2 separate regions of the Homo sapiens genome follow, and region 1 is linked to region 2. The links come from fine-mapping of genetic effects on gene expression. A gene starts in region 2. The other region holds a variant in brackets. All regions are shown on one strand. Distances are between the middles of the regions. Region 1 overlaps RAB28 (RAB28, member RAS oncogene family). Region 2 holds the start of LINC01096 (long intergenic non-protein coding RNA 1096).

What was found. PIP is the estimated chance that this variant, and not a neighbour inherited with it, causes the effect. A credible set is the group of variants that fine-mapping cannot tell apart.
Region 1: its variant is the best candidate, but not a certain one, in a credible set for the expression of LINC01096 in lymphoblastoid cells (GTEx, PIP 0.82).

Annotation. Positions count from the first base shown.
Region 1 is chr4:13,457,863-13,462,257 of GRCh38, reverse strand. It overlaps RAB28 (RAB28, member RAS oncogene family), which reads left to right. Exons shown (of 7, transcript NM_001017979.3): 4 at 1,430-1,559. Among named protein-coding and RNA genes, the nearest start is that of RAB28, 24 kb to the left of the region's middle. The variant G/C (reference allele first, on the strand shown) is at 1,952.
Region 2 is chr4:13,545,966-13,550,360 of GRCh38, reverse strand. LINC01096 (long intergenic non-protein coding RNA 1096) reads left to right here and starts at 2,537. Exons shown (of 1, transcript NR_015450.1): 1 at 2,537-4,285. It also overlaps a transcript of NKX3-2 not described here. RefSeq lists enhancers at 1,062-1,356, 2,726-3,226, 3,227-3,727 and silencers at 2,401-2,700, 2,891-3,010.

The DNA.
Region 1 (4,395 bases), 88 kb after region 2:
GCATTTACACCATGAAAATTGGCAAAGATTACGGCAAACTGTCACCCCTGCTGGGCCCTGAACCCCAAGCCAATTGATTAATATTTACCAGTGTCTCACTAGTTATGACTACTGTGTTCTATACTTGTTTGTGTGTTTAGTTTTGCTGCAAGACTGTGAGTTCCTTATGGTTTGGAACTTAAATCCGTAGGAATCCAGCACAATGCTTGGAGTTTAGTTGACAGACAAATGTTTTTAATTATTTAGTCTTTGGTTCAAATACTGGCTCCATCACTTACCTATCAGTATGACCTTGGTTATTTTAACCTCTGTTTATTGTTTAAAATGGGAATAATAATACCAGCCTTTCATGATTGGTGTGAGGATTAATGAGGAGACCTTGACGTGTGTCTGGTATACAATAGGTGCACAAAAGTAGTTGATTACTACTGTTACAACCTAAGAAGTCGACATAAATGCCATTAGGGTCCGGGCTTATACTGTATGTAGAGCTTTGTATTAAGTGTTTGACCACAAACTGGATGAGAATCAAGAATGTGGTAGTTATTTCTGTGTGCATATATACTTCTCCTTCCCACACAAAATAATGAGATAAATTAAAAGGAATATGATATATAAGAGGCAGGAAGCAATCCTTCTGTTGTATTTGGCATTGCTGAGACTCTTAGTACAGTATTACGTCCAGTTTTACATTGCTTATTTTAAAGAGGATGTCAAAAAACTATATGTAGTGTGTCCTGGGAAGAATCAACAACTATGATTAAAGGGATAGAAAAATAGGCCCTTCGAGGCAAGTTTAAGGAACTGAGTTTGTTTACTCTGGAAAGGAGATGGTAAAGGAGTTACTTAACTCTGCTCAAGTATATGAAGGGTTAGTTTAAGAAAGATACTCTCAAGTTCTCCAAATGCACAGTGGACTAAAAGAGGAAATCGACATTTCATTTAAAGAAAATTGTGTTAAACACTTAAATTGTCTATCAAGGGATATCATGGAATCTCTGTTTTTGAAAATATTTAAAAAGAGTAGCAGCAGATGATTATTTATTGAAAGGTTTAAATGCTTGACCTCATGAAAGTGAGAGGTAGGATTGTAGATGTTGTAGCCTTTTCTACTTCTTTGATATGATTTTCTTATATTTACTGTAACTTACCAAGCATATTCCAGATATCTTATTGGAAGACCACTTACAATTTTGATAACATTATGTTTTAGCTTGCATTGCATCTTAGTTGCTGGATTTATCTTGAATGAAAACATTCAGTATTATCAATCTGCTAGTAAGCAATTTAAATGGAAGTTTATATATAAAACACTACACATTTGTATTTTTATACCCATTTTGACATATCTGAAGCATTACGCAAGTATTCATTAAGATTTTTTCACCAAATAATACATTACAGATATTTTGTAACTCTTTTGTGACAGGGAGTCCTCTTGGTATATGATATTACAAATTATCAAAGCTTTGAGAATTTAGAAGATTGGTATACTGTGGTGAAGAAAGTGAGCGAGGAGTCAGAAACTCAGCCACTGGTTGCCTTGGTAGGCAATAAAAGTAAGTTATTACTGCTTGTTTATGTATGGTACAGTTTACTTGCTGTTGTGGACAGAATGTTTGTGTCCCCCCACCACCCCCAATTTATATGTCAAAGACCTAATCCCCAAAATGATGGTGTCTGGAGGTGGGGTTTTGGGAGGTAATTAGGTCATGAGAGTGGAGCCCTTAAGAATGACATCTGGCAGGGCGCAGTGGCTAATGCTTGTAGTCCCAGCACTTTGGGAGGCCAAGGCAGGGGGATTGCTTGAGGCCAGGAGTTTCGGACAAACCTGGCCAACATAGTGAGACCCTTGTCTCTATTTAATTAAAAAAGAGAATGGGATTAATGCCTTCATAAGAGACATGAGAGAGATAATTCTCTCTGCCATGTGAGGATAGGCAAGAAGGTG[G/C]CTGTCTGCGAACCAGGAAGAATGCCCTCACTGGATACTGAATCCGTCAGTACCTTGATCTTGGACTTTACTTACCGAAGTTTGAGAAATAATGTTTGTGGTTTAGGCCATAGTCTATGCCATTTGTTATGGCAGCCCAAACAGAGGACTTATTGAGACATTTGCCTATCCTGTAGTTTTAATTCCTACAAAGAAATATTTGATATTTGGAAACAGCTTTTCTGGAGTGAGCAAATTATTTGAGTAGAAAATTCCTAAGAGTGTGTACAATCTTTTCAATAACTGTTTTGATGCGTGGTCTATTATAACTGCTCCGCTGCTTTGGTCAATTCCTGTGAAGGTAAGTTTAGTTCTGACAGTGTGTGTTTTGGCTTCCTGTGGTCTAGGAAAGCAGCATGGATTATGAAGAACAGCAACACAGCTGCAGATTTTATGATATTGCATTGCAGTTTCAGCTCTGTCCCAGAGGTTTTGAGCGATGCATTTCATTGAATGATCTCCTATTTTAGGGAAGAAAGAAGTGTCTACATTGGAATTTTATATGCATTGTTTCTTGCTCCTGTCTCTTATAAACTTCCTCTTCTAAATTTTTGTTTTTTTTCTGAAATATAATTTTTTTTTTTTGAGAAAGAGTGTACTAGGGAGAAGAGTGGTTCTTGGTAAAAATTATGGGTTTGTTAGTAATTTTGAGACCTGTCTCAAATGATAGATAGCAGAGAAAAATTATAAAACTGAACTCAGTACATGACTGGTTTTTGGTTCCTAGTTCTGCAATGCAGTGACTTAGAAAAAGAGACATTAATAAAGGTTTTCAAATATAGTCATGTGTTGTTTAACAACAGGATATGTTCTAAGAAGTGTATTGTTAGGCAGTTTCATTGTGTGAACGTTATAGAGTATATATTAGGGTTCTGTAGAGGGGCAGAACTAATAGGATAGATGTATATATGAAAGGGAGTTTATTAAGGAGAATTGACTCACATGATCACAAGGTAAAGTCCCACGATAGGCCATCTGCAAGTTGAAGTGCAAGGAAACCAGTAGTGGATCAGTCCGAGTCCCAAAACCTCAAAAGTAGGGAAGCCAACAGTGCAGCCTTCAGTCTGTGGCTGAAGACCTGAGAGCCGCTGGCAAACCACCAGTGTAAGTCCAACAGTCCAAAAGCCACAGAACTTGGAGTTTCATGTTCGAGGGCAGGAAGCATCCAGCACAGGAAAAAGATGGAGGCCGGAAGACTCAGCAAATCTGCTTTATTCTAGCCATACTGGCAGTTGATTAGAGAGTGCCCACCCAGATTGAGGGTGAGTCTGCCTCTCCCAGTCCACTGACTCAAATGTTAATCTCCTTTGGCAACACCCTCACTGACACATGCAGGAACAATACTTTGCATCCTTCACGCCAATCAAGTTGACACTTAATATTTACCATCACATAGAGTGTATTTACACAAACCTATATGGTATGGCCAACTACACACCTAAGCTATATGGCACAGCCTATTGCTCCTAGGCTACAAACTTGTATAGCATGTTCCCATACTGTAGGCAGTTATAACACAATGGTGAGTATTTATCTGTCTAAGCATAGAAAAGGTACAGTAAAAATACGGTATAAAAGCTCCATTATAATCTTATGGGACCACCATCATATATGTAGCCCGTTGTTGATAGAAACATTGTTATGCAACACATGAATGTATGTGAAATATTATATGATTCGTTGTTTTCTAACTTATTTGAGGTCAGAAAAAGAGAAAATGATTTCAGATTTTACCATGGAAGATTTAGGTCAGGTATTATTTCCTGACAACAAGAGTTGTTAAATCAATACCTACATACATTACCAAGAGAATTATCTTTTCCAAAGGTCTTTAAAAATGTAGTACATTTTTTTTTCTCTGTAATTGTTTAGGAAGCAGTGCTTCCTGAAAGACCAAACCAAGATTTTTGCATTATGTGGCTTTGCACACTAGATGAGTATTTAATAAGTTCAAGCTTAATTTAAAACCATGATGACACAGGTGTGAATGTCATTTCTCTGAGGAGTTAAAAATACAGGCATTGTCATACTATCATACACTCTGGAAAATGGTATTACATATCATAAAATGTTATGGCTTGGGTAGAAATTGTAGTTTGCTTTTTTAAAAGCTTTAGTTAAATTTTGCTCATTTGTTTTGCAAATGATTCTTTTTAATTGAGTGAATCAGATGCTTTTCAGTTCATTGAAAATCCCCCTTTGACAAATCATGTTTTGATGAGCTTACGTTCTGTTTCTGGGTTCAGCTTCTCATTTTAGTTGTCATACAAAGCGTTGGCTTATATTATGGTTAAGTATGTGCTTTATTGGAGGTTTTGCATTACCTTATGAGAAATTATAGAGTGTTTGTGGGAGAGGCGTTATGATTTGTTTTAATTTTTTTCAGGATATAATCTAACTACCAC
Region 2 (4,395 bases):
CTTTCATTTTGTTTCACAAGCATCTGAAACTCAGCACAAGCAATTGACCACAGCATGTTTCTCTTTACCTATTCAAGCTGGCTCCTCCCCCTGCTCTCCTCCTCAAGCCCCCGAATACAAATGCCATCCACCCACTGTCAAATAGACAACCTAAATAAGAAAATAAAACCCTTCCAGGCGCGGTGGCTGTAATCCCAGCACTTTGGGAGGCTGAGGCGGGCGGATCACTTGAGGTCAGGAGTTCGAGACCAGTCTGGCCAATGTAGTGAAACCCCTTCTCTACTAAAAATACAAAAATTAGCCAGGCGTGGTGGTGCATGCCTGTGGTCCCAGATACTCAGGAGTCTGAGGCAGGAGAATCGCTTGAACCCGGGAGGCAGAGGTTGCAGTGAGTCGAGATTGTGCCACTTCACTCCAGCTTGGGTGAGAGAGTGAAACTGAGGTTTGTTTTCAGTGCCGGAAATTTCTGATCTTTAGGGTGAAATACCTCAGTTTCTATCATGAATAAATTAGTTTCTAAAAAACCATTCCTAGCCGGGTGCGGTGGGTCACGGCTGTAATCTCAGCACTTTGGAAGGCTGAGGTGGGCGGATCACCTGAGGTCAGGAGTTGGAAACTAGACTGGCCAACACGGTGGAACTCCATCTCTACTAAAAATACAAAAATTAGCCAAGCGTTGTGGCGGGCACCTGTAATCCTGGTTACTCGGGAGGCTGAGGCAGGAGAATCACTTGAACCCGGGAGACGGAGGATGCAGTGAGCCGAGATTGCGCCATTGCACTCCAGCCTGGGTGACAAGAGTGAGACTCCATCTCAAAAACAAAAACAAAAACAAACAAAACAAAACAAAACAAAACATTCCTTTGGCGCCAATAAAACACACAGGGATGCCTGTGCCCTAAATGATCATCCAGCGAGAGCTCTGGTTATATACTCACAGCAAGCAGCTGTGGAATGCAGGATAGGGTAGGAGGTGGGCCAGGGGCTTGCTGTGGCCTCCGTTCTGAAACCGATCCCAACACGCCCGCGTCCTGCTCCAGTCCCTTCCCCTTGGCCCTGGAGCGAGGTGAGTCTTCAATGGAGGTGTTGATCGTGCCTGGGTGAGTTTTTAAAATGAAACATCTCCGCTGTTAGATCTCTGGCAGCGCGAGGCTGTGTACACGAAACTAGAAGCAAAACAGTCCGTTTCGTGTACTACTTATTCCAGTACCTCCCCATAAAAGTACGCACAACCCTAGAGGGATGCCCGCTAGGTGGCGCTCGTCCTCCACCATACCCAGGAGGGTTCGAGGCTGGCACGTCTTTTTAACACCCTGAGGGGTGATCTCCAACCCTGGCTTTTTAGGTAAGAAAACTAAGCCCCAAAGAGGGTCTTGCGTGAGGTCGCTTGGCTACGTCTCAGAACCGCGCGCACAATCTGGTTTCTGAACCTAATGAGTTTCCATCACCTGGCTGTCTCCCTCTACACACGGTTTAGTTTGTTGATTATAATAAAATGGTGTGTTTCCTTCTTTCTACACAACGAGGTTTACGTTCAGATCCGCAGGCCTTGGTGTGATTTGTTTTCAAATGCGTGGAACAGAAAAAAAGTCATTAGATTTGTCTGACTAAATTTTTTCTTTGATTACCTTAAATCCGAACGAAGCTCCTTTTCCAATGAATAAGCAATTAAAAATGGGTAAGGTCTATGATGGGAAACAATTAATAAGGTTAATGAGAAAAGCCGATTAGAGTAGAAAATCCAACTGGATTTGACATCAGACAAAGCCTGATTTAAATCCTGACAGCCACTTACTGATAGTCAGGAGTCTCAGTTTCTTCATCTGTAAAACGGGCATAACAATGTTTTCTACTCATTCCAATCCCAGGGGTGTGTACATTCAATGAAACAATAGGCTTTGGTTCCTGGCACACTGTCAGTGAGCAATATTTGTTAAAATATAAAACTACCTTTTATATTATTATTTATAGTATTATAAGCTGGCCAGTTACAATACAGCCTCTCTCTGCAGTCTGATATATTTTGATCGTGTGCATGAAAAACGCTGCAGGGCGCTGGATTACTCAGGAACGCAGGCGCGGGTGCTGGACGCTTGGGATGCTTAGGCGGTTTGGATCGCCCTCGGGAGTCTGCGGATTGGGACCGACGGTCAGTGCTGGGCGCGACCTCTGCCTGGACCTGGCTCTGGGGAGCCGGCAACGCTGCCCCTCCCTCCCCTCGCCCCCGCCCCCACCCCAAACACACACACACACCCTTCACTTGCTCACTCAGTGAAGCACCGGGTTCAGAAGGCACCGGGTCCAAACCCTCGTTTTAAAGGACTGGAAGCTAGAGAAGGCAGGTGACTTCAATCAAGGTCACCGGCATCTGAGGGACGAACCCCGCATGGCCTTTCGTTGCTGGGCAGCACCCGGCGCGCGCGACCTCCGGCCGCTGGCGTCAGGGAAGGCGGCCCAGGGCACAGGTGGCGGGCGTCGGGGGCGAGGCGCGCGGTGGCGCAGCCAGGAAATCCCGAGCCCACTGGGCGCCCCCCTCGGGAGCGCGGGCACGTGTGCAGCAGTTTACTGCGCGCCCCCGAGGGCCGGGGCTTCCCCTTCCCCGCCCCCTTGGCTTTCGCAGTCAAATCCCGCTCTCCGCCCGCCGCCCGCGGAAGTCTCACCGCGCAGCAGCACCCCCAGCCCGGGCGGTTCCGGGGACCGAAGGGCGCGGCACGTAGGGGGCCCGTAGGATCCAAACTGCGGAGGAGAAGCAGGAGGAGGGAGGAGGAAGAAGACAAAGGTGTGGAGGAGGAGGGGAGGGAGGAAGAAGGAAGAGAGGCAGAAGACTAGGAAAAAATGGGCCCGTGGGCGCGGAGGGGGCGCGGCGGGGTAGAGAGGCGCGGACGCTGAGCGAGCCCGGTGCCTCTCGAAAGCCTCACCGGCCGCCCGGCCGGGCCGCGCAGCTCCGCCAACTCCCGGGCCGGCCCAAGCCGGAGCGTGGCGCCCGTCGGGAGGTTGCAGAGTTCCTGGAGCTCACAGCTGAGCCCGAAGGAAGTCGCCCTCGATGGGCAGGAAGCGGGACCCAGGCACGCCCGCGCGGTCGCGTCCAGATCTGCCGTCCTCCGACAGGCGCAGGCCTGCTGCGCCTTCGCCACACACCGCCACTCTGGGCCTGGACTCCGTAGTTACGCCGGGATATCTCTGGGCATACAACCACCTCCCCTTCCCCACAGTCTTTTCATCTCCACCCGACCCCTTGCTAGGAGCAGCTTCTAGTTGCAGCTCAAGACCCGCGAGTTCACCCTCCGCGCCAAGCACCCAACTCCCGGCTCTGCCTACAGTCACCCACAGACCTAATGATCGACTAAGCGCCGTAATGGCCCGAGATGACACCAGGAGACTCCCTTGCTGTGCGCCTCCGGAAGACGCGGAACGTAGCCCCTTTCTCACACTCCTGGGACACAAAAATACCCGACAACTCAAAGTCGCCAAACCACATCTTTTCATGCTTTGAAGACTTCTGCCCAAGGCTGTGGCAGGAGTATGTCCAACTGTGATTTGGGATTCTTTTTAAACATCGAATCAAAGGGAAGAGGGGAGGGATTCGCAACTAAATGGTAGTTGTTTTCAAGCAAGTCTTTACGTAGCCCCAAACCTACTCTAGTATTCGGTGATTCAGCCCCAAAACATCTCTGCCTGCCTTTATGTTCGGATCTCACTCCATTATTTGTCAGCACCAAGTACTAAACCCACAAAGCGATCGCTGTACGGGACACCAAACCCATACCTGCCCGTCCCCTACCTTCCAGGCAACCAGTGTCAATCTCCTCACTATACATAATTCCCAACATCCCTGCCCGAAGTGAGGAGAACGGTAATTTAAATAATACAGCGGGGGAGGAGAGGACACACTGTTTTTGAAAGACTGTAAGCATTCTGCTGTTCCACTCTGCGTCCTTACACTTGCTGAGCACTGACACCAAATTTAAATGGCGTTCCTTCAAAACTGATGTAATTGTAAAGAGCTGTAAAGGGCAATGACCTCAAGTGGATGTTTTTTCCCAGGTACCCTACAAGGTTTGCACAAAGCAAGAAAGCATCATGTAACCGAAATGCTGAAAAGTATAGATGCTGCAAAACCTCATTCTGAGACTGAGAACTATGAATAGTCAGTGTATTTCCTTCTGCGGTGCAGAAAAAGAACAACCAAAAAGAAAGCAACAAGGGGAGATGTTATTTATTTTAATGACACCAAAACTACCAATCCTAGCAATTTAATAAATTAAAATCATAGTCCTTTAAATGTATTTAATGGTTCAAGTTTGTGTATTTGGTGTTAACTCTCTGGTAAAGTTTATGGAAAACAGTGAAGTACGTTAATTGAGCAAATTTTATATTAAAAAAGGAATAACACAT